4 linked regions of the Homo sapiens genome follow. The protein of the gene in region 1 interacts with the protein of each later gene in a pairwise test. Each region holds a gene or a part of one and is shown in the gene's direction. Other genes may lie near its edges.

The links.
Region 2: the proteins of SEMA4G (region 1) and CAMK2B interact in binary tests that used the Homo sapiens proteins (3 or more experiments, as listed by UniProt).
Region 3: the proteins of SEMA4G (region 1) and PEX1 interact in binary tests that used the Homo sapiens proteins (3 or more experiments, as listed by UniProt).
Region 4: the proteins of SEMA4G (region 1) and DEGS1 interact in binary tests that used the Homo sapiens proteins (3 or more experiments, as listed by UniProt).

Annotation. Positions count from the first base shown.
Region 1 is NC_000010.11:100,979,502-100,986,137, forward strand, and holds the end of SEMA4G (semaphorin-4G isoform 1 precursor), read left to right. Parts: intron 1-346; coding exon 347-491; intron 492-620; coding exon 621-843; intron 844-1,076; coding exon 1,077-1,192; intron 1,193-1,320; coding exon 1,321-1,496; intron 1,497-1,666; coding exon 1,667-1,728; intron 1,729-1,874; exon of another isoform or gene 1,875-1,961; coding exon of another isoform or gene 1,962-2,042; intron 2,043-3,803; coding exon 3,804-4,630; 3' UTR 4,631-4,988; coding exon of another isoform or gene 4,989-5,392; 3' UTR 5,393-6,115; downstream 6,116-6,636. Other genes in the region: MRPL43 (large ribosomal subunit protein mL43), read right to left, coding at 4,254-4,316, 4,447-4,573. UniProt on the Homo sapiens protein: Cell surface receptor for PLXNB2. May play a role in axon guidance.
Region 2 is NC_000007.14:44,224,587-44,231,609, reverse strand, and holds part of CAMK2B (calcium/calmodulin-dependent protein kinase type II subunit beta), read left to right. Parts: intron 1-555; coding exon 556-604; intron 605-2,108; coding exon 2,109-2,222; intron 2,223-2,685; coding exon 2,686-2,814; intron 2,815-4,965; coding exon 4,966-5,094; intron 5,095-5,718; coding exon of another isoform or gene 5,719-5,847; intron 5,848-6,296; coding exon of another isoform or gene 6,297-6,394; exon of another isoform or gene 6,395-6,425; intron 6,426-7,023. UniProt on the Homo sapiens protein: Calcium/calmodulin-dependent protein kinase that functions autonomously after Ca(2+)/calmodulin-binding and autophosphorylation, and is involved in dendritic spine and synapse formation, neuronal plasticity and regulation of sarcoplasmic reticulum Ca(2+) transport in skeletal muscle.
Region 3 is NC_000007.14:92,511,516-92,518,538, reverse strand, and holds part of PEX1 (peroxisomal ATPase PEX1), read left to right. Parts: intron 1-283; coding exon 284-398; intron 399-496; coding exon 497-1,263; intron 1,264-4,571; coding exon 4,572-4,691; intron 4,692-6,835; coding exon 6,836-6,959; intron 6,960-7,023. UniProt on the Homo sapiens protein: Component of the PEX1-PEX6 AAA ATPase complex, a protein dislocase complex that mediates the ATP-dependent extraction of the PEX5 receptor from peroxisomal membranes, an essential step for PEX5 recycling.
Region 4 is NC_000001.11:224,178,611-224,186,249, forward strand, and holds the start of DEGS1 (sphingolipid delta(4)-desaturase DES1), read left to right. Parts: upstream 1-4,629; 5' UTR 4,630-4,726; coding exon 4,727-4,808; intron 4,809-5,069; exon of another isoform or gene 5,070-5,221; intron 5,222-7,639. UniProt on the Homo sapiens protein: Has sphingolipid-delta-4-desaturase activity. Converts D-erythro-sphinganine to D-erythro-sphingosine (E-sphing-4-enine). Catalyzes the equilibrium isomerization of retinols.

The DNA of each region.
Region 1 (6,636 bases):
CCTCCCGAGTAGCTGGGACTATAGGCGTGTGCCACCACGCCTGGCTAATTTTTGTATTTTTAATAGAGATGGGGTTTCACTGTGTTGCCCAGGATGGTCTCGATCTCTTGACCTCGTGATCTGCTCGCCTCGGCCTCTCAAAGTGCTGGCAAAGTGAGAATTTTAAGCACATCAAGCTAGGCTAGAGCCAGAGAATGAATGCAGTGGTCCACTGACTCACAGGAGAGGCCCTGTGGGACTATAGCTGGGGTTGGCCAGGGTAACAGTGAGCTTCAGGCTGAGCACGAGTTGGGGGGCAGGCTTGACTCCATGTAACTCACCCCCCTTGCCCTATGTCCCATTCTAGGAAGACCCTGGAGGCCTCAGCCATCTGCCGCTATGACCTGGCAGAGATCCAGGCTGTCTTTGCAGGACCCTATATGGAATACCAGGATGGTTCCCGGCGCTGGGGTCGCTATGAGGGTGGGGTGCCTGAGCCCCGGCCTGGCTCGGTGAGTGCCCAGGCCTGGGGCCAGTGCTGAGTAGACAGAGCCCAGGGAAGGGTCAAAGGGTCTGGCCTTGTGGAGAGGGCAGGCAGGTGGTGGAGTCCCGAGGTTCACCACCTTCGTCCCCCACGCCAGTGTATCACAGATTCATTGCGCAGCCAAGGCTACAATTCATCCCAAGACTTGCCATCCCTGGTCCTGGACTTTGTAAAGTTGCACCCACTGATGGCTCGGCCCGTTGTGCCCACACGTGGACGGCCCCTGCTGCTCAAGCGCAACATACGCTACACACACCTTACAGGGACACCTGTCACCACGCCTGCTGGACCTACCTATGACCTGCTCTTTCTGGGCACAGGTGCTTCTGATCCCAATCCCTGATCCCTGTTGGCCCTGATCACTAATGCTTCTGAATCCATTAATTCCTGCCATGACTAGTCTGGAGTTCCCAGTGTCCTGAGGGTCCACTGCTCCTGGCTGAGTCCTTGTTCTGGACCTCAGGACTCCTGAGCTGTTCGTATTAGGCCTCTTGCAGGGTGCTGAGAGCAGATCCCATAGTTGGGGTCTAACTCTCTGCTCTTTCCATACCAGCTGATGGCTGGATCCACAAGGCCGTAGTCCTGGGCTCTGGGATGCACATTATTGAAGAGACACAAGTGTTCAGGGAGTCCCAGTCTGTGGAAAATCTAGTCATCTCTCTATTGCAGGTAGCCCTTCTCTGTGACCCTTAATATAGCCTTGCTGAAATAGGAAGAGGGAGTGGGGAGGTTGGGCAGAGGCTGTGTATCTGTATGAGTGGGGACGCTGCCGACCAACTGTCCTATCTGGCTCCCAGCACAGCCTCTATGTGGGGGCTCCTAGCGGAGTCATCCAGCTACCACTCTCCAGCTGCTCCCGCTACCGATCCTGCTATGACTGCATCTTGGCCCGAGACCCCTACTGTGGCTGGGACCCTGGCACCCATGCCTGCGCAGCAGCCACCACCATAGCCAACAGGTCCCAGGGAAGCAGGTGGGAAGTGGTGGGGGGTGACAGTCACATGTGGTCTGAGTGGAGGAGGAAGGCCTGATAGCTACTGGGGGAGTGCAGGGGCTAGTTATTAGTAACAGACCTATCTACCCTTTCACTGGGAAACTGAAACCCAGTTCCCCTTGTTCATAAAACCTGATCTTCTGTCCCAGGACAGCACTGATACAGGACATAGAGAGAGGAAATCGAGGCTGTGAGAGCAGCAGGGATACAGGTAAGTGACTCATATGAGTGTGGGTCTAGCTACGCAGACTGTCCTCTTTGCCATTTACTGCCATGTGTACGTATATGTTTGTATCTGAGTGGCTGTGGCTATGTACATTTGGTAAGGATGACTCAAACACAGAGCCTGGCACAGAGTAAGTGCTCAACAAACATTTACTGCCCAAATGAATTATAAACTAGGAAACATATTTAAGATGTGAAGTGTCTTGTCACTTCTGGAGCTTATAGCCAAGTAGTGGATGACAAGGGTTCAGGACGGTAATGGGTATTTCCCCAAGGAAGATCGGATGACTGAACTGATATCTGAAGAAAGAACAAAAGTTAATCATCACAGCTAAGATGTATTAAGTATTTACTGTGTGCCAGACACTGATCTAAATACTTCTATGCATGATGTCATCTACTGTCACAGCATTCTTATGAGAAAGGTGCCATTATTATTATCCCCATGAGGGACCTCTCTGAAGCCCAGGGAGTGTAAGTAAATTGCTCAAACTTATTCAGCTATTAAGAAACTGGACCAGAATTCAAACCTGGCTGAGTACAGTGGCTCACGCCTGTAATCCCAGCACTTCGGGAGGCTGAGGTAGGTGGATTGCTTGAGCTCAGGAATTGGAGACCAGCCTGGGCAACATGGCAAAACCCCATCTCTACAAAAAATACAAAAATTAGCCGGGTGTGGTGGCACATGTCTGTAATCCCAGCTACTTGGAAAGCTGAGGTGGGAGGATCACTTGAGCCTGGGAGGCAGAGGTTGCAGTGAGCCAAGATCACACCATTGCACTCCAGCCTGGATAACAGAGTGAGACCTCATCTCATCTCAAAAAAAAAAAAAAAGAAAGAAAAAAGAATTCAAACCTGACCCCAAGCAGTCTGATTTGACTTTGTGCTTCTGGTCACTATACTATGCTATCTCCCACAAGTTAGCCAGGCAAGCAGAGGACATGGGGTAATGGGGTGACATGCAAGCAGAGGGAGCAGCAGGCAGAGGGAGGCTGGCACATTTGAGTGACAGGAGAATAGGCTGGACAAGTGGGCAAAGGCCATGTTGAAGATTTTGGTCTTTATCCGAAAAGCAATAGGAAACCTCTGAAGAGTTTTAGGCTGGAGAGTGGCATGATCAGATTTGTGTTTTTAAAATACCTCTCATGAAGAATGGATTACATGGGGCCAGAGTGGGCCAGGAGTCATGGAAGGAGAGAAATCAACAGGTCTAAGATAGATGCCAGAAACAGAATCTTAGTGACAGTTAGATACAAACGTGAAGAAGGGCCGGGCACGGTGGCTCATGCCTATAATCCAGCACTTTGGGAGGCCAAGGCGAGTGGATCACTTGAGGTCAGGAGTTCGAGACAAGCCTGGCCAACATGGTGAAACCCTGTCTCTACTAAAAATACAAAAACTAGCTGGGCATGGTGGCATATGCCTGTAATCCCAGCTACTCAGGAGCCAGAGGCAAGATAATCGCGTGAACCAGGGAGGTGGAGGTTGCAGTGAGCTGAGATCACGTCACTGCACTCCAGCCTAGGCGACAGAATGAGACTCCGTCTCAAAAAAACAAAACAAAACAAAAAGGCGAGCAAGAAAGAGAAGGGAGACTCCCAGGTTTCTGACTTAAGCAACTGTGTGGCTGGTGGTGCCATTCACAGTGGTGGCGATTCAAGGAAAGGACTTGGTGTCGTTGGGGAGAAAAGCTTTGGTTTTGAGGTGTCCAAGAGACCTCATGTGGAGATGCCCAGCACATGGTAGATATCCGAGTCTGGCACTCAGGAGAGAAGTCTGAGGTAGAGATTAGGAGTTACTGGCAGATGGCAGAAATTGAAACCACAGGAGAGGATGAGAGCATGGAGAGAGAATGGAAAAGGGCCCAAGGCACTGCCTGCTTCCTGGGAAGGGCCAACGTGAACCTTCTGTGGAAGCATGAGCACAGAGCCTGGGTCAGCTGTCACTGTGATTCTGGGTTCTGTGCTTGGTGCCAGGGACTTGGCAGTGAACAGTCTGGCTTGCCATCTCTAATCCCTTCCTGGGACGGGCTGGTACTGACCTCTCCCCCAAACCCCACAGGGCCACCACCACCACTGAAGACCCGCTCTGTGCTCCGGGGTGATGATGTCCTCCTGCCCTGTGACCAGCCATCCAACCTGGCCCGGGCCTTGTGGCTACTCAATGGGAGCATGGGCCTGAGCGATGGGCAGGGTGGCTACCGTGTGGGCGTGGACGGGCTGCTGGTTACAGATGCACAGCCTGAGCACAGTGGCAACTATGGCTGCTATGCCGAGGAAAATGGCCTCCGCACCCTGCTGGCCTCCTATAGTCTCACAGTCCGGCCAGCCACTCCTGCCCCAGCTCCAAAAGCCCCTGCCACACCTGGGGCACAGCTGGCACCTGATGTGAGACTGCTCTATGTGCTAGCCATTGCCGCGCTTGGTGGCCTCTGCCTCATCCTGGCCTCCTCCCTCCTCTATGTGGCCTGTCTGCGGGAAGGCAGACGAGGGCGCCGACGGAAATACTCACTGGGTCGGGCCAGCCGGGCAGGAGGATCTGCGGTGCAACTGCAGACAGTCTCAGGCCAGTGTCCTGGAGAGGAAGATGAGGGTGATGATGAGGGGGCTGGGGGCCTGGAGGGCAGCTGTCTCCAGATCATCCCTGGGGAGGGAGCCCCAGCCCCACCACCCCCACCGCCCCCACCGCCACCGGCTGAGCTGACCAATGGCTTGGTGGCACTGCCCAGCCGGCTGCGGAGGATGAATGGCAATAGCTATGTGCTTCTGAGGCAGAGCAACAATGGAGTACCAGCAGGGCCCTGCTCCTTCGCCGAGGAACTCAGCCGCATCCTGGAAAAAAGGAAGCACACGCAGCTCGTGGAGCAGCTAGATGAGAGCTCTGTCTGAGCCCAGCCTCCCAGAACAAATGCTCTTCCAAGCCAGCCTATCTGTCCCAGGCTGGGCCACTGCCTCCCTAACACAGCCACCCTCCCTTCATTACCCCCACTCCATACCCTTCTCCCAACTTTTTGATGTCCCTGTAGGGCTGGCCAGTCAGGCCCAGCCAAAGCCCCCTCCTCAGTCTCCACAGACCCACATGTGAGCAGCCCAGGCCCATCGGTGCTCCTCAGAGGTAGGTGCTCCCTCAGGATCAGGTGCCCTGCAGACCCAGAGCCAGTTCCTATCCCCTAACCTAAACACTTATAGGTGAGGACTCCATCCTCCTGTTCCATTCATCTGCCCAAACCCTTTCTCTTTCTCCCAGGCAGGGCTCTGCAGGTCCATATGGGCTCAATGTCACCACCCTCTGCATGGCCCTGTGTGCTGGATGGTCCTGAAACCAGACAAGACCTCTGCCAGCCACCTAAGCCCTGCGTACATTCACATGCACACATGGAAGAATGTTTATCGGCTGGGCTGCAGTGCCCCCACCCTCACCTTCTCCTGGTGCATTCTTGTTTCATCCCTGCTTCTGGACTTGGGGTACCCTCCCAATTGCCACATCCTATCTGGTCCTCTTCCCCAGCCCCATGTGGTGACCTCTTTGTCAAGAGCTTGGGAACGGGCCAGCCTGGGGAGGTAAGACTGCATCACTCCCCTCCTCTCCCTTCCTGTGTGGCCCTTGTGAATCAGCCTCCCCACTCTCCTTGGTCATTCTCAAGAGTATGAGAGACAGAGCTCCAGGCATGTCCCATCCCCATGCACATGTGGTAACACACACCTGTATCACACATGTGCTTACATTTCCACTCACATGCACCTCTGAGCCTCCCTTGCTGTCTTGGACCTGTCTGTTGGGTTTAGTCCGTGGACATTTCAGAGGGAGATCCCCCTCCCATTTAACTGTCCTCACAGGCCCTTGCCTAGGATGGATGACCAACACTGCACTCAATGAGCCAGCCTCTCTTTTGGGGGAATCAAGCATTTGCTTCCTCTAGACTACAGCAGGGAAAGGGAGGAGAAATCTGATGTCTCAACTGGCACATGAAGCCCATTCTTGGAACTATGCAAAGGGCAGAGGCTGGGAGTTTGGACGCTTAGCTCCTACCCCTGTCCTACCTCACCGGGGCACTTTCAGGGGCCAGGGGCCTCTGAAGTCTCTAGGCCTATATGGGACAATCAATTCTGACTGAGCTCCCCCATTCCCCTCGGGTGAGGATGACTGTTATTTTTGTAGCTGAGAACGTGGAATCCCACGGGTTTTTACTGCCCTTCACCCAACCTCTCCCACCTCCACCCCACAATGAATGTATTTATTGTGAGAATGGCTACACTTCTTTAGGAATGCCCCCACTTACAACCAGGTGGGTGGAACAGGCATGTGACAGAGTGGGGAGCCTGGGCTCAGCTCCTCCCCCTGCCGTTGGTTAATAAACACCCTTTTTCCCCACAGCTATGACTAGTCTGCTTCATCTAGATGCGCCCACCCCTGATCACCAGGGGACAGGCTCCTGAGCCTATACAGAAGGTGATATCTGCCTCCAGGATTGGCTCTGCTCCCCAATACAACTATTTGCAGAGGAAATTGGGATCCTCCGCTTCCATCCTGACTCCTTGGCAGGCACACAGGCCTCTTTAGTAAGGTTCACACTATTCATTGATCATGGTGTTAGGGCATGACAAGAAAATGACAACAGTTCAAGAATTCTTACAGGGGTTTCTAGATTTTCATTTCCTGCCTCTCATTTCCCCACCATCCCCCCTTTTTAAACTAAGATTAGAAAATACTCATTAATATCAGCCTTCCTGCCCTTCCCCAAGGTTCTCAGCACCCCCCACCAGCTGGCTCAAGGGACATGGATTTTATTTCTGCACAAAGAGGGACGTGGGGGGAAGGAGATGTATAGCTAAGACCAGAGAAAGCTTGTCAGCCAGGACTTGGTCTGAGAATCACTCCCCTCTCCCTTTCAGGG
Region 2 (7,023 bases), on another chromosome or scaffold:
AGAGCTCCTGGGAACGCCTCACCCTGTATTTTGGATGACACCGGCTGCTGCTTCATTGGAACCAGCCAGTCCCATTGTGTTTTACGTCTTGGAATTTCAAAAAGCCCATTTTCCTCTCTTGTTAAAGAGTCAGCTGAGCATACCAGTCTCTCTGCCAGGCTCATCTTGCTGGGAGAAGTGGAGCCCTCATGTGTTGGGGATGCAGGGTGGCCACAGCACTAGGGTGGCAGGGCCGGCCTCGGACTCCGTGCCAGCCTGTGCTGGCTGCCGTGAGAATGCACCCTGGTGAGGGGCGCCCTCCCAGGGACCAGCACAGAACTGGGTGTCTTCTCCGGTCACTGCCGCATGAGGTCCACAGAGCTGGGGCCCTGCAGCCGCCAGAGGGCATGTCCCCTGAGCCCCTGGCCTTTAAGCCCCGTGGAAGCAGCCGAGGCAGAGATCAGCTTCAGAGCCTGGGCTGGTCCTGACACAGGCCCAGCCCTGTCCACCTGCCCTCAGCCACGTCCCACCTATCCTTGGCCGCATCCTGACCCGCTGCCTCCCGTGTTTCCTCAGGAGTCTTCTGACAGTGCCAATACCACCATAGAGGATGAAGACGCTAAAGGTACCTGCACTTGAGTCCTTGCCCCCCCAGCGGCCTTGGCATTGCTGGGTTGCTCTTTGAGGTGGGTGGGACTTGGGCAGGGTCAACTCTCCTGCGACGCCTAGTTTATGCATGTGTTGAGGGGCTCAGGGACCCTGTAGCTGTAATCCTGCTCCAAGCCTGGGTGTCAGGCCTGCCCAGAGCGGAGAAGCATGGCAGAGATGACCGACAGCTGGGCAGTCTCGGTCACCGCATCCAAGTGAGGAAGCCACGGCTTTGCATGGAGGCAGGTTCTCCACACCAGGACCCTCACGGGGAAACAGGCCCATGGGTAGAATTTGTTCCAAGATGCTGTCCTTGTCTTAAAGCTCCTTAAGCTTGCGTTTCTGTCCAGCATGCACTTGCCAAGTGGCCGGGCAGCTGGGTGAGTGTTTCCGTGTTTGCCTTTGCTTAGCCAGGAGTGTCCTGCTGCGGTGGGTTTCTGCACCACAGATTCCAGGGCCCCCTCCCTTGCTCACCCAGGCCAATGTCTTGTGTGTTCCCCAAGAGGCCCCCAGGGCACCAGGCACTGGGGCATGCTCCATGGATTCTGCCGCCTCCAGACCACCCACATGGGGCCTCCTGACCCTCATCGCTCACACGGTCACCTAATAAGCCTTATGCTGTTCTCAGGGCTACCCTGGTGCCCAAAAAGGGTCAGCCACTCTGCCAGTTTAGGGGAGAAAACTTCTCACCTGTCCAAAGCATAGCCTTGCTCCTGCCCGGCCTACCCAGCTATGACACTGTCCCTGAGCAGAGATGAGCACAGGACTTTGGGCCCTGGATGCCGGAGAGTGGGTGTTTGTGTGATTCCCCTGCAGTCTGGAACAGGCCCCAAAGGCAACAGCATGAAGGCTGTCCAGAGGTTCTCCATCACCCTCAGCCGAGTGGGGTGCTGAGCAGTGAGGGAGGGGACCTGGGAGGGGGGCCCAGCCTGGATCCTGCAGGGGAGAAGAGAAGACAGCCAGAAGCCAGCAGCTGTGGCTCAGATCTGAGCCCGAGCAGCCTCTCGAGGTGGAGGCAGACACCCCCCACCCCACCCCGTGCAGAAAGAAGCCTTGCCAGCCTGCCCTGAGGCTGGTACAGAGTCCAGGCAGGCTCAGTGGCCATCATGCCCCTACGATGACTGTCACTCCCTCTCCGTGCGCCTGGCCTCTGCTGGCTCTGGCCAGGGGTGGTCACAGCACTAGGGTGGCAGGGTGGCCTCTGACTCTGCGCCAGCCTGCACTGGCCTGTGCTGCCCTGGCCTCTGCTGGCTCTGGCTCTGGCACCGGTCCCGTGTTGGCTCCTTCAGCCTTCACATACCTGCTGCGGCCACCACAGGCCCAGGACCCCCACAGGTGGCCACCCCACCTCCACCCCAGGAGCCCCAGGTATCCAGCTGTCACCCCCTCCCTCCCTCCTGGCCTCCCCCTGTCCTTCTCCAGTTGCCTTCTTTTCCTGCGGGCGCACCACCCACCTGCCTGCCTCACCTGTTCCGCCTCAGCCCCCAGGGTCCCCGACATCCTGAGCTCAGTGAGGAGGGGCTCGGGAGCCCCAGAAGCCGAGGGGCCCCTGCCCTGCCCATCTCCGGCTCCCTTTAGCCCCCTGCCAGCCCCATGTAAGTAGCCTGGGTCCTGCTGCTGTGGGGGTCATGTTGGAGGGCTGGCAACCCCCTAGAGGGGCCACTCCAGAGCCGAGGGCAGGCTGAGCGTGGACCCTGGCTCCAGCCTCATCACCCCACAATCCCTCACTGGGGCTTTCCAGGGTGGCCCCAGCCCATCGAGCCCCACCTCTTTGTGAGGAGGGCCCTGGACCACTTTCCTGCTCAAGGCCACTGGGCAGGATGGGAGGCCCTGGAGGCTCGGGCCTCAATTCCAGTCTTCAGGGTCGGTGCAGGCCTCACTCCACCTCAGCTTGCGGGCGGGGGGGCTCCCTGCTATTGAGGCAGGCTCTGATTCAGGGCCTGATCCCAGGGCCCAAGGGGTCTAGAACACGGGACCCCTCCCACTGGCCTCCTCCGCCTTGCCGCCGCCTCGTGTGTCTGTCTGCCTCATGTTCACGTCTCATCTGTTCCACCCCAGCCCCCAGGATCTCTGACATCCTGAACTCTGTGAGAAGGGGTTCAGGAACCCCAGAAGCCGAGGGCCCCCTCTCAGCGGGGCCCCCGCCCTGCCTGTCTCCGGCTCTCCTAGGCCCCCTGTCCTCCCCGTGTAAGTAGTGGCCCCCAGGCCTGCCGCCTCTGCTGCCGGACAGCTCCCTGCGAATGGCCGGCGCTCAGCAGCTTCCCACCTGCATGCACGGCCCAGCTACCCTGCCCCGGCGCCGCAGCCTGGAGTCCTGCCCTGGCGGGGCTTCCTGTGGGCTCCCATGCTAACCAGCAGGGCAGCTCCTGGCTTCTCCCTAAGGGGCCCAGACCCCTCCACGGCTCCTGCTCCCACTGCCACTCCCCGCTCGCTGTCCAGCCCCAGGCCCCTCTCCAAAATGTCTGTCCCAGCCCTGGGCAGCCCTGGCCCCTCCGAGGCCCCCCATGCCCCTAGGCCCTCTCTGCTGATCACTGTCCCAGCCCCACAGACTTCACACCCACCCAGGGGCCCTGCCCATGGTGCCCAGGAGCTGCACTCAGGGCCACCCTGGTTCCTGATGTGGCCCCAACCCCTGAGCACCCTCCCTCAGTCTAGGAGGCTGAGGAAGGTGCCAAAACTGGAACCCCGACCAGGGTCTCTGGAGCTCACCAACAAGGGGATAGTACGGAGAATCATAAGCCTGGCCTCTGCTGACCTGGGCTGTCCTCATGGGGCCAGGCCAGGCCTCCTCTGTAACGCCCGTGACTCCCTCCTCTCCCTGTAACCCCGTCCAGCGTTCCTCAAGGGCCACTTACCTGACAGCTTCTTGCTGGCCAGCAGCCTCTCCCTGGAGGGTGCCCTCTGCCCCCAGCAGCTTCAGCCCACGCCACCCGACAGCCAGAGCATCTGCCCTTCACTCCTGCAGCCTCCTCTCCACGCACCACGCTGTCCGCAGCAGCACCCTCTGTCCCCCTGTCTCCCTCCGTCCCCCCATATCCCCCTCGGTCAGCCTACAACCTCTCCACGTCCCCCTAAGTCCACGCTCTATCCCTACATCCCCCTCTGTCCCCCAAATTCCCCTCTTTCCCTCATTTCCATTTTCCTCCCCAAACTCTGCTCTGCCCCTCACATTCTCCCTCTGTCCCCCACACCCTCCTCTGTCCCCCAGACTCTCCCTCTGTCCCCCACACCCTCCTCTGTCCCCCATATACCCCTCTGTCCCCCACACCCACCTTGGTCCCTTCACGCCCTTTTCTGTCCCCCACACCCCCTCTGTTCCCTACACTCTCCCTCTGTCCTCCAGACCCTCCTCTGTCCCCCACACTCCCTCTGTCCCCCACACCCCCTGTCCCCCACACTCTCCCTCTGCCCCCCAGACCCTCCTCTGTCCCCTACACTCCCTCTGTCCCCCATATCCCCCTCTGTCCCCCACACCCTCCTCTGTCCTCCACCCCCTGCCCCCCATACCCCCTTCTGTCCCCCACACTTCCTCTGTCTTCCACACCCCCTCCTGTCCCCCACACCCCCTCTGTCCCCCAGACTCTCCCTCTGTCCCCCACACTCCGTCTGTCCCCCACACCTCCTGTCTTCCACACCCCCTTCTGTCCCCCACACCCCCTCTGTCCCCCATACTCTCCTCTGTCCCCCACCTCCCCCTCTGTTCCCCACACCGCCTTCTGTCCCCCACACCCCCTCTGTCTTCCACTTCCCCTCTGTCCCCCACATCCCCCTCTGTCCCCTGCACCCTCCTCTGTCCCCTGCACCCTCCTCTGTCCCCTGCACCTCTCTCTGTCCCCCACATCCCCCTCTGTCCTCCACACTCCCTCTGTCCCCCACATCCACCTTGGTCCCCTCACGCACCCCCATCCCCCATGACCCCTTCTGTCCCCCACACCCCCTCTGTCTTCCACACCCCCCTCTGTCCCCCACACCCACCTTGGTCCCCTCATGCCCCCCATCCCCTACACCCCCACTTTGTCCCCCCACATGCCCCTCTGTCCCCCACGTTCCCTTCTGTCTCCCACGTCTCCTCCATTTCCCGTTTCCCTCTCTGTCCCCCAAGCTCCCCTCCATCCCCCACATCCCCTTCTTTCCCCTATATCCCCTCTGTCGGCCCAGGTCCACCATCTTCCCCCCACACCCCCCCATTCTCCCTTCCTCCCCTCTGTCCCCTTGTGCCCCATCCCCCACATCTGCCTCTGTGCCCCTCAATCTCTGGCTTGGCTGTCTGCCCATGGTTTCTCTCCTGCGTGCCCCCCGTGCCTGCCTTGTGTTCACGTCTCGTCTGTTCCGCCCCAGCCCCCAGGATCTCTGACATCCTGAACTCTGTGAGGAGGGGCTCAGGGACCCCAGAAGCCGAGGGCCCCTCGCCAGTGGGGCCCCCGCCCTGCCCATCTCCGACTATCCCTGGCCCCCTGCCCACCCCATGTAAGTAGCACCTTGAGTGGCCGTGGCAGCGGCTGCCCGGAGGGGCTCGGGGCGTGCGAGCCTGGCAGTGGTGCTCTGGGAAGGGCCATTCTTGCGGAGGAGGGCGGGGCACAGGATCCCTCTGCTGGGTCCCAGGGAATTGCTTTGAAGCACATGAAGGTGCCACTGGGTCTCAGAAAATGGAGGTTATGGTTATGAAGTGTGTATGACATATGTGTATAGGAAGAGCGTCCGAAAGAGCAGGTTTGTTGCCGACCCCAGCATTCGCAACCCTGAGGTCCACAGCTTTCTCCTGATGGGAGGGGAATGGGTGGCAAAGGGTCTGCGCGTGTGGCAAGGGCTAGCACGCCAGGAGCTGCTGGCTTGGGTCAAGGTGGACCTGCTGGGCCGGGACAGAAAAGTGTCAGTCCCGGCCTGAGACGCTCTAGCATTAGAGCTGTCCAAGTCCAGACAGCAGGGAGCAGGTGGGGATCGGGAGGCGCGGATCTGGGGGGCAGCTGGGGCCAGGCTGAAACAGAGCGGGCGGGACAGGAAGCACAGGCTGGGCAGCCTCCCCGGCCAGGGAGGAGCCAGGCTGGGCCACCTCCCGGTCTGTCTGCCGACTACCCGCAGTATCACTTACAGGGATGGATGACATCCCAGGGCTGCTGCCACCCCCACCTGTGGGGAGACACCAGACTGGGGGTGGTGTGGAGATACTCTTAGAGAAGAGGCTGCTGGGCCACGGGCTCGGCATGGCAGGGCAGTGGCTAGGTAAGTACTTGAGGGACAGGTGGGGTCTGCTTGCCACCGTCCCCTCTGCAGGCTGGGCCTGGGGGCTGCTGCAGGCGGCCAGGGCAGAAGGGTGTGGGGAGAGTGAACCCACAGGAGCAGCGGCTCGAGGAGGGGGATGCAGGCTGCAGGCTCAAAGGGGCACTGGATCCACCCTGGGTGCCCGAGAGAGCAGGGGGCAGCCCCTGGAGGGGTACTCACCCCCAGAGCTTCTGTGGTCGGCTGAGGACCCCCAGCAGGGGTTGACTGAGGGGATCAGAGGCAAGCAGCTGAGGGGAGAGGCCAGGTTCTTGATGCTGATAGGGTCGGGGTGCCTGGGCGACCAGAACTCAAGGAGGGAGGCATGGGGAGGGGCCGCCGTGCAGCTGGGGTGGGTGCACCGCAGAGCCTCTGGGAGTGGTCAGAACCCCCGACACCTGCCACTTCTACAGCAGCTCATCTGATTTTAAGGGGCTTGCTGCCCTTGCAGAAGTGGAGGGGTGTGCCCAAAGGAGCCTGCCTGGAAGGTCACCCCATCAGGTTGGCATGACCCCAGCCCAGGACTGCAGCCTGCCCTCAAGGTCTGTGCAGTATCTGGGGTGAGTCCTCTGAGGACAGGGCCCAGGGTGGGTGTGGAGTGGCCAGCTCGGGGCTCGGTGTCCAGGCTCACCTTCAGGGGCCACAGCACAGACCTGCCCTTCCAGAGTCTTCCCTGAGCTTGGCTGGGGAGGAGGGGGCTGCAGGAAGGAGCTGTGAGCAGGGCAGGATGGAGATTCGTGTGGCCCTCCTGGGAGGGGCTGGGCAGGGCTGGGAAAGGGGTGGGTGAGATGTTCCGGAACTCAGGGAAAGGAAGAGTCTGGGTACTGCCCTGGGGGCACCTGGGCCCAGGTGGCAGGTGGCCAGCTTTCTGCCTCCTTTCCACCTCCTTTCTCCAGAAGGCACCCACCAGCTGTGTAAATAGGGCAGGTGCCCACGGCCCGCCTCAGGCCCCGTCTCCTCCCCACCCACGCTCTCTAATCGCGGATTATACACAATCCAGCCTGATCCCTGGGCAGCTGCCCTCCCTCCCGCAGCCACCTCTGGCTCTGAGAGATGGGCTTGGGGCCAGCCTGGGGTCCCAGGAGTCCAGGCCAGGATGAGAACCTGCTCTGACCCCACCTGGACGCATTAGGCCTGCCT
Region 3 (7,023 bases), on another chromosome or scaffold:
TATAGGTAATAAAATTGTATTGGGGATTCATGTTAAATGAGTAGATTTTAACTACTCTTACCACAAAAACACAAAAGTGGGTAACTGTGAGATGATGTATATGTTAATTTACTTCACTATAGTAACCATTATACTATCTATATGTAGCTCATAACACCATGTCGTGTATATTAAATATGCACATTAAAATTTGTTTTTTAAAAAAAGAATTGAGATTTTTTTTAACTAGATATGGAGTGGACAAAATGTAAAGTGAATTGATCTTTTCGTCTGTTGGTTCTAGGAGCTGCATGCTGTTTCCCTTGAACAACATCTTCTAGATCAAATTCGAATAGTTTTTCCAAAAGCCATTTTTCCTGTTTGGGTTGATCAACAAACGTACATATTTATCCAAATTGGTAGGTGCTATTGTAATATTTGCTGTCATATTCTACACTATAGCATTGAGTCCAAAGTAGAAATGAATGTGCACTAATGAGCTTTATTTTCTACACAGTTGCACTAATACCAGCTGCCTCTTATGGAAGGCTGGAAACTGACACCAAACTCCTTATTCAGCCAAAGACACGCCGAGCCAAAGAGAATACATTTTCAAAAGCTGATGCTGAATATAAAAAACTTCATAGTTATGGAAGAGACCAGAAAGGAATGATGAAAGAACTTCAAACCAAGCAACTTCAGTCAAATACTGTGGGAATCACTGAATCTAATGAAAACGAGTCAGAGATTCCAGTTGACTCATCATCAGTAGCAAGTTTATGGACTATGATAGGAAGCATTTTTTCCTTTCAATCTGAGAAGAAACAAGAGACATCTTGGGGTTTAACTGAAATCAATGCATTCAAAAATATGCAGTCAAAGGTTGTTCCTCTAGACAATATTTTCAGAGTATGCAAATCTCAACCTCCTAGTATATATAACGCGTCAGCAACCTCTGTTTTTCATAAACACTGTGCCATTCATGTATTTCCATGGGACCAGGAATATTTTGATGTAGAGCCCAGCTTTACTGTGACATATGGAAAGCTAGTTAAGCTACTTTCTCCAAAGCAACAGCAAAGTAAAACAAAACAAAATGTGTTATCACCTGAAAAAGAGAAGCAGATGTCAGAGCCACTAGATCAAAAAAAAATTAGGTCAGATCATAATGAAGAAGATGAGAAGGCCTGTGTGCTACAAGTAGTCTGGAATGGACTTGAAGAATTGAACAATGCCATCAAATATACCAAAAATGTAGAAGTTCTCCATCTTGGGAAAGTCTGGGTTAGTATAAATTTTATAACTTGGGAGAAATTTTATGTGGCTTAAACATCCCCAAATTATGAATTAGAATAGTATTTCATATATAAATTGAAAATCAATTAAAAAGAAACACAGTGCCTAAAGGCACTTGGGGGACACATTTACGCTTTGCAGTAAAGTCCTTGTTTGGATAAAGATTGTATGTTTTCTGGCCAAGTAAGCTTGAATAGGTACAAGCTTAGATAGGTTCAGGCCAGAGAGGTCAAAATTACTTGCCTGAGATTGCATAGCTAGTGTTACAACTAGGATTCAAACCCAGGCAGATTGACTTGGGGGTTCATCAGGATGGAGTGCCCTACAAAGCCTCCCATCTTTAATGCTTGCAGATTTGTTCCCCAGTTACCGAAAGCAACTTGTTAATATTAGGGAAAAGGGCCAGTGTAGGGAGAGATCCATGGCATGAGGTAACCTTCCTGCTGCATGTGGTGGCACCTGGATTGGAATGCATCCAGGAGCTGCTTACCCTGCCGGTGTCTGCTCTTTAATTTGTGTATAACGGAGAGGAAGTAGACAGGGCAACTAGTGCTCCAGCCCCTCATCCTGGCCACAAATATTAATGCTACCTTTATATGACATAAGTCACTAGTCCATTTATTGGAACCTAAATTTGAACCACTGTAAAGTAAGACTTCATAGTGATAAAGAGAGGAACTTGTTAGGAAAGAGAATAAAATAGAAAGAGAAGGTTGTCTCCTTTTGTAGATTTTTTTTTTTTCTCCAACAGTTTTACCTGTGACCTTTATACAAATAACTGACAAAGCATTAATCTCTTTGGCCTACATCATTTTCTTTTCTATTTTTTTTTTCCACAAGATGGAGTTTCACTCTTCTTGCCCAAGCTGGAGTGCAGTGGCATGATCTGGCTCACTGCAACCTCCGCCTCCCACGTTCAAGTGGTTCTCCTGCCTCAGCCTCCTGAGTAGCTGGGACTACAGGCATGCACCACCACGCCTGGCTAATTTTTTGTATTTTTAGTAGAAACTGGGTTTCACCATGTTAGCCAGCCTGGTCTGGAACTCCTGACCTCAGGTGATCTGCCTGCCTCGGCCTCCCAAAGTGCTGGGATTACAGGCATGAGCCACTGCTCCTGGCCGGCCTACATCATTTTCTAAAGCTCCAGACCATTCTTTTCTTTTCTTTTCTTTTCTTTTCTTTTCTTTTCTTTTCTTTTCTTTTCTTTTTTCTCTTCTCTTCTCTTCTCTTCTCTTCTCTTCTCTTCTCTTCTCTTTTCTTTTCTTTTTTTGAGTTAGAAGCTTGCTTTGTTGCCCAGGCTGGAGTGCAGTGGCACCACCTCCACTCACTACAACCTCCACCTCCCAGGTTCAAATGATTCTCCTGCCTCAGCCTTCAGAGTAGCTGGGACTACAAGTGTGCGCCACCACTCCTGGCTAATTTTTGTATTTTTAGTAGGGACGAGGTTTCACCATGTTGGCCAGGCTAGTCTTGAACTCCTGGTCTCAAGTGATCCGCCTGCCTCAGTCTCCCAAGGTGCTGGGATTACAGGCGTGAGCCACTGTGCCTGGCCTCAGATCATTATTTTCTGTTAGCTTTAAACTGTCCGTTCAGGAGATCCCACTGCATCCTCAAATTCAAAATATCTAACACTGAGCTTATGATTTAGCTGGTTCTGTCATTAGATGGGAATATCCTTTTATTTCCTTGAAATTATATGGTGAGAACAGGGAGAAGTGCTGATGGTAAAGTCCTGTGATTAAGATAGCAATAAGGACTCCGCCCTTCCCACTCCACTGAAGGTTGAAGAGCCATGGACAATGAGAAGTCACAGTAGGTGAAATCAGGTACTAAAATGGACTTGGCTTGAGAGATCAAAATTGATCACTTGGTGATACAACTAACAAATTCATGTTAACTTGAACCTTTATTACCCTGTGAAGCATGGTGATTAAAAAAAAACAACAAACAAACAGGAAACTTGATTGTTAAATTCTCTTTAAGTCAGAATATGTACCTTAGAGTTTTTATTTATGCTTTTGTCTACCATTAATATGTCTGCACCTGCTCTTTAGAAGTTAATAGAGAGTAAAGTCGTCTTTATGTCTTTCAGTGCTTACTTATATTTGGGAAGTTGAGAAAAATTTTTAACATCATTATTGATATATATATATATATATATATATATATATATATATATATATATATATATATATAGATAATTTTTTTTTTTTTCTTGAGACGGAGTCTCACTCTGTCGCCCAGGCCGGAGTGTGGTGGCGATCTCCACTCAATGCAAGCTCTGCCTCCCAGGTTCAAGCGATTCTCTTGCCTCAGCCTCCCGAGTAGCTAGGATACAGGCTCCCACCACCACGCCTGGCTAATTTTTGTAGTTTTAGTAGAGACGAGGTTTCACCATATTGGCCACGCTGGTCTCAAACTCCTGACCTTGTGATCCGCCCACCTCGGCCTCCCAAAGTGCTGGGATTACAGGCGTGAGCCACTGCGCCCGGCTGAGGTAAAATTTAAAGTGTACAATTCAGTCATTTTTAGTATATTTATACTAGTTGTACAGCCATCACCACAATCTAAGTTTAGAACATTTTCATTAGGGGGTGGGAGAAATTTTACTCTGCTTTTTAGATTAAGTTTCTGTCTGGATCTAATCATTTAATCAGACAATCAGGCAGATTGTCTGTGATTAGTTTTGGCCATTCCAGCTTCTTCATTGGTTGTTAACTTTCACAAATAAAGGCTGCTCAAAGATTAGAAATAACATTTAATTTGAATGTAAATGTGCCATAGTTTAAAAGATGGGTTTGGTGAATACAGTCAAATACATACATTTAAAGCTCTAATTCTGAAGATTATGTAAAGAAAAGGAAAGAAATGTAGGGAGAGGATTGAAATGTTCATGGTATAACAATATCTGAACATCCATCTGGTCACACCGTTGGTATTTGAATGTTTTGTCCTCCTCAAATTCATATGTCGAAATCCCAACTCCCAAGGTGATCGTATTAGGAGGTGTGGTCTTTGGGAAGTGATTAGGTCATGAAGGTGAAGCCTTCATGAATGGGATTCGTGCTCTTATAAAAGAGAACTGTGAGAAATAAGTTTCTGTCGTTTGTTAGCCACCCAGTTTAGGATATTTTGATATAGCAGCCTGCATGGACTGAGACAACTATGAGTTATTATGATAGCTTCTGTTATTTCACCTAAATTCATAGAAGCTAATATATCAATATTTATGCTATGAAATATTTCTTAACCAAGCTTTGAATATATTTATATTTTTGTTTATTTTTAAATTTCAGATTCCAGATGACCTGAGGAAGAGACTAAATATAGAAATGCATGCCGTAGTCAGGATAACTCCAGTGGAAGTTACCCCTAAAATTCCAAGATCTCTAAAGTTACAACCTAGAGAGAATTTAGTGAGTTCAAATATATATGTTACATCAAAATTCTTTTACACGTTTTGTAAGATTTCTAGTTGCTTTAGCTAAGTAATAAGAATGTTGTATTCCTTTTTGATACAAATCTTTTTTTATTGTGTTAAACTATATATAACATAAAATATGCCATGTTCGCCATTTTTAAGTGTATAATTCAAAGGCATTAATTACATTCATAATATTGTACAACCATCACCACTATCTATATCCAGAACTTTTCCATCACCCCAAAGAGAAACTTGGTACCCATTAAACAATAATTCCCCGTCCACTCCTTTCCCCAGTCCCTGGTAATCTCTAATGTATATTGTGTCTCTATGAATTTACTTATTCTAGATATTTCATATATAAGTAGAAGTATGCATTTGTCTTATGTATCTGACTTATTTCATTTAACATAATGTTTTCAAGGCTCATCTGTGTTGTATGTATCAGAATGTTATTCCTTTTCATGGCTGAATACTATTCCATTGACTGCATATACCACATTTGTTTATCCATTCATCTGTTGATGGACACTTGGGTTGTTTCCACATTTTTGGCTGCTGTGAATAATGCTACAGTGAACATTGGTGTACAAGTATCTGTTTGAGTTCCTCTTTTCAGCTCCTTTGGGATATACCTAGGAATTATGTTTAACTTTTTGAGAAGCTGAGAAATCTTTAATAAATGATAACACAAATACTTATATTTGCCAATGCAAATATGAATATTTTTGGCTTTTAAGAGATTGATCATTTTGCCACGTGGTTGTAATTAAAAAAAATTGTCCCATGTTGTTTCAGTATTAATATTGTAGCCTAAAAGAGTGCTAGACTGTTTTACTTTTTACTCAGTTAATTCTTTGGATACTGGTAGAGTCAGGAAATGAGATATTGAACTTAAAGATCTTTGCAGGTGGGGTCCAGTGGCTCACACCTGTAATCCTAGCACTTTGGGAAGCTGAGGTGGGAGGATTGCTTGAGGCCAAGAGTTTGAGAATAGCCTGGGCAACATAGCAAGACCCCATCTCTACAAAAAAATTAAAAAAAAAATTAAGCCAGGCGTGGTAGCTCACGCCTGTTATCCCAACACTTCGGGAGGCTGAGATGGGTGGATCACTTGAGGTCAGGAGTTGGAGACCAGCCTGGCCAACATGGTGAAACCCCATCTCTACTAAAAATACCAAAATTATCGGGGCGTGGTGCTAATCCTGTAATCTCAGCTACTCAGGAGGCTGAGGCAGGAGAACCACTTGAACTGAGGAGGTGGAAGTTGCAGTGAGCCTAGATCTCACCACTGCACTCCAGCCTGGGTAACAGAGCGAGACTCTATTTCAAAAAAAGTAAAAATAAAAATTAGACACATGTGGTGGCACATGCCTGTAGTCCTAGCTACTCAGGAGGCTGACTGAAGTGGGAGGATCTCTTGAGCCCAGGAGTTCCACACTGCAGTGAGCTATGATTGTGCCACTGCACTCCAGCCTAGGCAATATCTCAAAAAAAATTTTTTTAAATAGATTATTAGGCCAGACGTGGTGGCTCATGCCAGTAATCCCAGCACTTTGGAAGGCCAAGGCAGGCGGATCACCTGAGGCCAGGAGTTTGAGACCAGCCTGGCCAACATGGTGAAACCCCATGTCTACCAAAAATACAAAAATTAGCTGCAATGTCTATAATCCCAGCTACTTGGGAGCCTGAGGCAAGCGAATCGCTTGAACCCGGGAGGCAGAGGTTGCAGTGAGTGGAGACTGCGCCACTGCACTCCAGCCTGGGCGATACAGCGAGATTCTGTCTCAAAGAAAAAGGAATTTGTTTTCCTGTCTTTATCGTAGAGGGAGGAAAGGGAGAATGGGGTTGGAATGGTTATTGAGTGAGCCACATTATGGTAGATGTATCACTGGGCATAGAGAAAAGGAGCATTTAAAACTTTTCCGCCTAACAGATGTTTCTTCAGGCTACACTGCACTCATTGTGCTAACTGTAATGTCAAATCCCAGACCTGTGCCTATAGAACATGAACATCCTTCATTGGATTTGTTTGGTCAGGCTTACACTTTATTAGGAAGATCAGATGTTAAAATAAGGGTGTTAAAGTTAAGTTCAGATATGAGGATAATTCATTACTATTCCTTTTTCTGGCAGCCTAAAGACATAAGTGAAGAAGACATAAAAACTGTATTTTATTCATGGCTACAGCAGTCTACTACCACCATGCTTCCTTTGGTAATATCAGAGGAAGAATTTATTAAGCTGGAAACTAAAGATGGTGAGTACATTTGTTATTTTGACTTTTTTTTCTATTTAAATAGTTGTACATTTTTAATTGTTCT
Region 4 (7,639 bases), on another chromosome or scaffold:
AAAAATTAGCCAGGCGTGGTGACATGAATCTGTAATCCCAGCTACTCGGGAGGCTGAGGCAGGAGAATCACCAGAACTCAGGAGGCGGAGATTGCAGTGAGCCAAGATTGGGCCATTGTACTCCAGCCTGGGCGACAGAGCGAAACTCCATCTCAAAAATAAAATAAAAAGAAAAGAAAAGAAATAGATAACATAAAATTCTTACGATTATTTGCTTGAAGTGAATAAAGAATGTTTTCTGTATTACTCTTCTATGAATTACAGTAGTCAATACCATTCAATCTCAACTGTTATCACTATTGAAATGGCCTCAAAAATAAACTGCCCTTTCAAAAATCAAGCAGATGGAAAAGGAAAAATCCATATTGATTTCAAAAGTACAGCTGCCCTCATCTGAAAACTACTTCATCTTAAATTTCCTAATATGATCATGGCTGGCTGCGATTCACCACAGCTTCCAACAGCCGACTGGAGAGCGTTTTTCCAGAATAACTAGTATGTTTGCTTCAAGACAAATTATTTGACAAGGTTAAGGAAAAGATGTGAAAGCTAGATAATCCATTAAGAATCTTTTTTTAAAACTTCAAGGCATTTTATTTATACTTCTTTTTTTTTTTTTTGAGACAGTCTCGCTCTGTCGCCCAGGCTAGTGTGCAGTGGTGCAATCTCAGCTCACTGCAACCTCCGCCTCCCGGGTTCAAGCTGTTTTCTGCCTCAGCTTCCCAAGTAGCTGGGATTACAAGCACCCACCGCCATGCCCAGCTAATTTTTGTATTTTTAGTAGAGACGGGGTTTCACCATCTTGGCCAGGCTGGTCGTGAACTCCTGACCTTGTGATCCACCCACCTCGGCCTCCCAAAGTGCTGGAATTACAGGCGTGAGCCACCATGCCTGGCTATACTTCTTAGCTTACTTTTTTATTACGCGTATATATTAAGAACTTTTAAAAGTCCAAATTAAAGAAGCATGCCTAGACATCATTAAAATAGCTATCAATGCCCATGACAATCCTGTAGCTCAAATAGTTTACTTTAGAATGTCAAAATTGATTTTGTAATAGTCAGGACAGGATAAACAGTCGCTATATTAAGACCATGTACGTGTCCCTAGACCTAGTTCTTTCCCTACGTCTGTTTTTATAAATGCTGGTGATAAACCAGGTCTGATTAATATATAATCATTTTGTGTGATTATGTAACGGCTATAATTCTAGGTTATCTTTGGTCAACCTTAAGAAAAATGGCAGTATATGTAATGACTTTTGCAAATGATCAGTGCTAATTTGCAGACTTTTGTTTAAAGAGGGTTTAAACAAAATAAGAAAATTTCATGATTACCAGTTGCTATTAAATGAATTGTAACTTTTTTTAAAAAAAAAGAATGTCCAAGCCAGGTGTGGTGCTCATGCCTGTAATCCCAGCACTTTGGGAAGCCAAGAAGGGCAGATCACTTAAGGTCAGGAGTTCAAGACCAGCCTGGCCAACATGGTGAAACCCCGTCTCTAGTAAAAATACAAAAAGTTGCTGGACGTGGTGGCACACACCTGTAATCCCAGCTACTCGGGAGGGTGAGGCAGGAGAATCGCTTGAACCCAGGAGGCAGAGGTTGCAGTGAGCCAAGATCTTGACACTGCACTCCAGCCTGGGCAACAGAGCGCAACTCCATCTCAGAAAAAAAAAATGGTATATCCAGATTCACATTTTTTTTCAAACTCTGCATTTTTCTTTCTTTCTTTTATTTTTTAATGTTTTTGAGACAAAGCCTCACTCTGTCACACAGGCTAGAGTGCAGTGCCACAATCTCAGCTCATTTCTCAGCTCATTGAAGCCTCGACCTCCTGGGCTCAAGCAATCTTCCCACCTCAGCCTCAGCAATAGGTGGGACCACAAACATGGGCCACCACGCCCAGTTAAATTTTTTTTTTTTTTTTTTGAGACGGAGTCTTGCTCTGTCGCCCAGTCTGGAGTGCAGTGGTGCGATCTCGGCTCACTGCAAGCTCCGCCTCCCGGTTTCATGCCATTCTCCTTCCTCAGCCCCCCAAGTAGCTGGGGCTACAGGCGCCCCCCCCACCATGCCTGGCTAATTTTTTTTGTATTTTTAGTAGAGATGGGGTTTCACCGTGTTAGCCAGGATGGTCTGGATCTCCTGACCTTGGAGACCGCCTTGGCCTCCCAAAGTGCTGGGATTACAGGCATGAGCCACCATACCCGGCATAATTTTTGTATTTTTTATAGAGGTGGGTTTTTGCCATGTTGCCCAGGCTTGTCCCGAACCCCTGCCCTCAAGCGATCCCCCTACCTCGGCCTCCCAAAGTGCTCAGACTACAGACGTAAGCCTCCGCACACCTTTTGGACTGGTGTGCCAGTTCACACATGCCTGTGATAGCAACTGCGTTCTGAACTGCAGGGATACATTTACTTGTCAGCACCTGAAAACTTCCTCCTGAGTTGAGTCCAATTATCAGCTTCATGTGCCATCTGCCAATCCAGATGAAACTTGGCAAATACAAAGCTGTCCTTTTCCAGGTGACACTCCCCACCTTCTTTTTCCTCCACCATTTCATTAACAACTAAAAAGCTCCTGCATGATCAGACCTGTGTATCTATCCATCATCAAATCCCACTCCTTTTTCGAGACTGGGACCCTCTGGAGGCTGACCCAGCCACGCATTTGCTAGCATGCCCTGCAGACATGACCCTCGCTGGGCTCTGATCAGCCTTCAGGCCTCCACTCCAGGTGTCACTGTTCTGTCTCCCCTCTGCTCTCACAGCCTTCTCTGCTAGATGTCTCAGCCGTGCTGGCCCTCTCTATTTCAGAAGTGAATGTACTGAGAGGGTCTTAGGGACTTATTAATAATGCTCCTGGGGTCGGATGTAGTAGCTCATGCCTGTGATCCCAATACTTTGAGATCACTTGAGCCCAAGCGTTTGAGACCAGCCTGGGCAACAAGGTGAGGCCCCATCTCTATCAAAAATTCAAAAAAGTAGCCAAGCATGGTGGTGCACGCCTGTGATCCCAGCTCCTCGGGAGACTGGGGTGGGAGGATGGCTTAAGCTCAGGTCAAGACTGAAGTGAGACATGAGGCCACCACTGCACTCCAGCCTGGGCAACAGAGCAGGACTCTGTCTCAAAAAAAACAAAACCCACTATAACCATAATACTATTATCACACTTAAGAAATTCATAATTCCTTAATATCATCACATATCCAATTGATATCTGAGTTCAATTATTTCATGTCAATGTTTTTAAACTATTTCAATCAGAATCTAAATGAGGTCAACACGTTGCAATTGGTTGGTATGTCTTTTAAACTCCTTTTAATCTACAGGTTTCTCTTTTTTTGCCTTGAGTTTCATTTATTAGAGAACCCAGACATTGTCCCATATAGTCTCCCAGAGTTGGATCTTGCTAGTTTCATCCCCACGGCCTAGTTTAACACATTCCTCTGTCCTTTCTATTTTCTTTTTTTTTTCTTGAGAGGGAGTCTCCGTCTGTCCCCCAGGCTGGAGTGCAGTGGCTCCGTCTCAGCTCACTGCAACCTCTGCCTCCCAGTTCGAGCGATTCCCCTGCCTCAGCCTCCTGAGTAGCTGGGATTACAGGCGCCTGCCACTACGCCCAGCTAATTTTTTTATATTTTTAGTAGAGACGGGGGTTTCACCATCCTGATCAGGCTGGTCTCGAACTCCCGACCTCAGGTGATGGACCCGCCTCTGCCTCACAGAGTGCAAGGATTACAGACGTGAGCCACCGCACCCGGCCAAATGTCCTTTCTATTTTCTATAAATTAACAGTCAGATCTAGGGGCTCGATCAGATTTGTGTGTGTGTGTGTGCCGTGTGCGCGTGCACAGCATGTTCTTTGACTAGGAGGCACACCTGCTTTGGTTATCTTCTTTTTGTAATCTTTAAGTTGCTCTTTGATGTAGACGTGGTAACTAATGTTGAAACAAAATTAGTTTCGTTTCAAAACCTTTCTTTCAGGAAGAGGTTGTGGTTGATTACTTCTGCGACAGGTAGATGCAAGGTTGAGCAATCATCTCTTAACAGAAGTGGTCACACTAGAATAATTCAAGCACAACAACAAATCCCACATCATCACCCCCTCTTAATAATGGTGTTTTCTTTTTACTTGATTAGCTTTTAATTGTCACGCACTCTGCATTTTTTCCCTGAGGTATTATTTCCAGAAGGCAGCGAAATATGACTCAATGGCTAATTTGCTTTTTAAAAATTAAACAAAACTTAGGCCAGCTGCCATTTAAGAAGGGCTCCGGGGCCTCCAGACTCGGTGTGACCGTAGCCGTGCCCGGTGCTCCCCTCGCGGAGGCGTTAGGGCGGCAGGTTTATCTCACTTGAGACCATTCCTTCCTTTTTCATCTTCTCCGGGCTCCGGCGCAGCAGGCCGCAGGGGCGGGCACTCGCAAGAACGCGGCATCCTGGATGGTGGCCGAGTCACCGAAGCTCAGAACCCCGCGTCCCAGAATCGCTGAGAGCCGGCCCCGCACGGGGGCCTGGGAGCGCCACGCGCCCTCCACCCAGAGAGGCAGGCGGGCGGGCCGGGGGGGGCGGGGCCTCGGGACTCCGCCCACGCCTCCGTCTCCTCCGCGCTCCGCCACAGCCGGCCGACACCACACCAGCCGGGGAGCCGCCGCCGCCGCCGCCACCTCTGAGCAGCCGGCTGGGAGCGAGAGCCGACAGCTAGTCTGCAAGCCACCGCTGTCGCCATGGGGAGCCGCGTCTCGCGGGAAGACTTCGAGTGGGTCTACACCGACCAGCCGCACGCCGACCGGCGCCGGGAGATCCTGGGTGAGGGCCAGCGGGCGCCCCGTTATGTGCGTGCGTGGCCTCCCGGCGCCGGGGCGCGCTCTCCCCTCGCGGGCCCTGCGCGGTCGTGGGCGCCGGAGGCCCGTTAGCAGCCTGCTCCCCGTCGCGTCCCGTCGCCGCTCGGGCCGCCAGCCCGCGGGTCAGCGCGGGAGAGGCTGGGCGAGGAGCGGGGGGAGGGACGGGTCCTCGGAGCCGCGCAGCTCCGACCCTTCCGCGAAGAGGCGCAGGCGCGTCCCCGAGCGCGGGAGTCCCCGCCAGGCCCACGCCGGCCGGTTGGGGCGAAGGGTGTCCCCGGCTGTGCCAGCCTTGAGTAGATCTTTTCGCTAGAAGATTCCTGTGCCCTCAGGTGGGCGCCCTTTCCTCTCACCACTCCCTCTCCTCCGGAGCGGGCCGAGGTGAGCGGGTGCCGGCCTTGGGGCTGCCTGAGTGCTAGGCAGGGTGTGGTCCTGGGCATCCTTGGGCCTACCAGCGAGCCCTGCTCAGGGTGTCGGGCGCCGGCGGGCAGTACTGGCGGGGGCGGCCGCAGTCCCGGCCTTGGGCCCGTTAAGGGGGCCGGCGTCCCTCCATATGCCCCCCGGGGCTTCTCGGACTTGATGGGCCCTGGTCGGTTCACGCCGCTTGTCCCATTGATCCTCACGACAAGCCTGGGACGTAAGAACGGCGGATTCGTAGGCATTTTTCATCCATCTCGGTTTTGTGGATGAAAAGACTGAAAATGGAAGACTTGCCAAATAAGGAAAATATGTGGCGTGGCCTGCTGGTCCCCTGACAGCTAATTGAGAGGCCTTAACTCTCCAGAGGATTCGGGCCTTCTGTGTTACATAGAGAATGCTCATCTCTCCCAGGCTACTCCTAATATGCTAGGGATTGTGTGGAATGCTTTACAAACATTACCCAATTTCATCCTCTTGGTAATTCTACTTGGTTGGTATTATCGCTGTTTTAAAAAATGAAATAAGAACGCGTGACTAAATGCTAGGGGGATTCTAATGCGCATTCGGTTGCCTCTTCCAGAGCACGTGTTTGTTTTTTGTTTGTTTGTTTTTTGAGACTGCACGTGTTTGTTTTTTGTTTGTTTGTTTGTTTGTTTTTTGAGACTGAGTCTCACTCTGTTGCTCATGCTGGAGTGCAGTGGCGCGATCTCCACTCGCTGCAACCTCTGCCTCCTGGGTTCAAGCGATTCTTCTGTCTCAGCCTCCCGAGTAGCTGGGATTACAGGTTCCCACCACTACGCCTGGCTAATGTTTGTATCTTTTTTAGTTAGAGACGGGGTTTCACCATGTTGGCCAGGCTTATCTCGAACTCCTGACCTCAGGTGATCCGCCCGCCTTGGCCTCCCGAAGTTTTGGGATTACAGGCGTGAACCACCGTGCCCGGCCAGAGCACGAGCTTTTTAACCTCTGTTGAGGAAACGGGGACCGGTCACGGTAGCTCAGGCCTGTAATCCTAGCACTTCGGGAGGCTGAGGCGGGAGGATCGCTTCAGCCCAGAAGTTTGAGACCATCCTGAGTAACATAGTGAGAGCCCCCCGTTTACACACACACACACACACACACACACACACACACACTTTTTTTAAATTGAGGAAACGGTGAGTTGAACATGAGCAATTATTCCTTATATATAGTATTTCCTTAGTTTTTCTTCTCAACATTCATTTGCCCAGTGAAAAGAAAAAGCAAGTAGCTGGGACCACAAGCGCACACCACCATGCCTGGTTGATTTTTCTATTTTTTGTAGAGATGGGTTTCTCCGTGTTGCCCAGGCTGGTCTTGAACTCCTGGGCTCAAGCAATCTGTCCGCTTTGGCCTCCCAAAGTGCTGGGATTTTAAAGGCGTAAGCCACTGCACCCGGTAACTTTGGGTTCTTGAATTCCCTTCCTCCTCTTCTTCCTCCTCCCCTACACTCCATTAGAGAAAGGGTCTTGCTTTGTTGCCCAAGCTGGAGTGCGGTGGTTGTTCACAGGCATGATGATCACTGCAGCCTGGGCTCCAGTGGTCCGCATACCTCAGCCTGCCAGTAGCAATTTGTTTGGCACATCACTTACACATACTTGATATGAGATAGCATGATACTTTTTTGAGACGGAGCCGCACTCTGTCACCCAGGCTGGAGTGCAGTGGCCCAGTCTCGGCTCACTGCAACCTCTCCCTCCTGGGTTCAAGCAGTTCTGCCTGCCCCAGTCTCCCGAGTACCTGGGATTACAGACGCCCGCCACCATACCTGGCTAAGTTTTTCTATTTTTATTTTTAGTAGAGACAGGGTTTTGCCACATTGGCCAGGCTGGTCTCAGATGATGCGCCTGCCATGGCCTCCCAAAGTCCTGGGATTACAGGCGTGAGCCACCCTGCCAGGCCACATATGATATATTTTATCAATGCCTTATCTACATGTTACATAGGAATAATCTAGCGTCCTACCTGTGTAAAAACCAACTCTGGAATACTGAAACTGAGCTACTTAATATTCTGAAAATCAGGACGGGTGTGGTGGCTTTTTTTTGCCTGTAATCCGAGCACTTTGAGAAGCTGAGGCAAGAAGATCGCTTGAGGCCAGTTCAGAACAGCCCCATCTGCACGAGAAATTAAAAAATTAGCTAGGCGTGCATGCCTGTCCCGCTACTCAGAAGGCTGAGGCGAGAGGAACACTTGAACTCAGGAGTTCGAGGCCAACCTGGGCAACATGGCAAAACCCCATCTCTACCAAAAAAAAAAAAATTTAATTAGCGGGACATGGTGGCATGTGCCTGTGGTCCCAGCTACACAGAAGGCTGAGGTGGGAGGATTGCTTGAGCTGGGGAGGTAGAGGCTGCA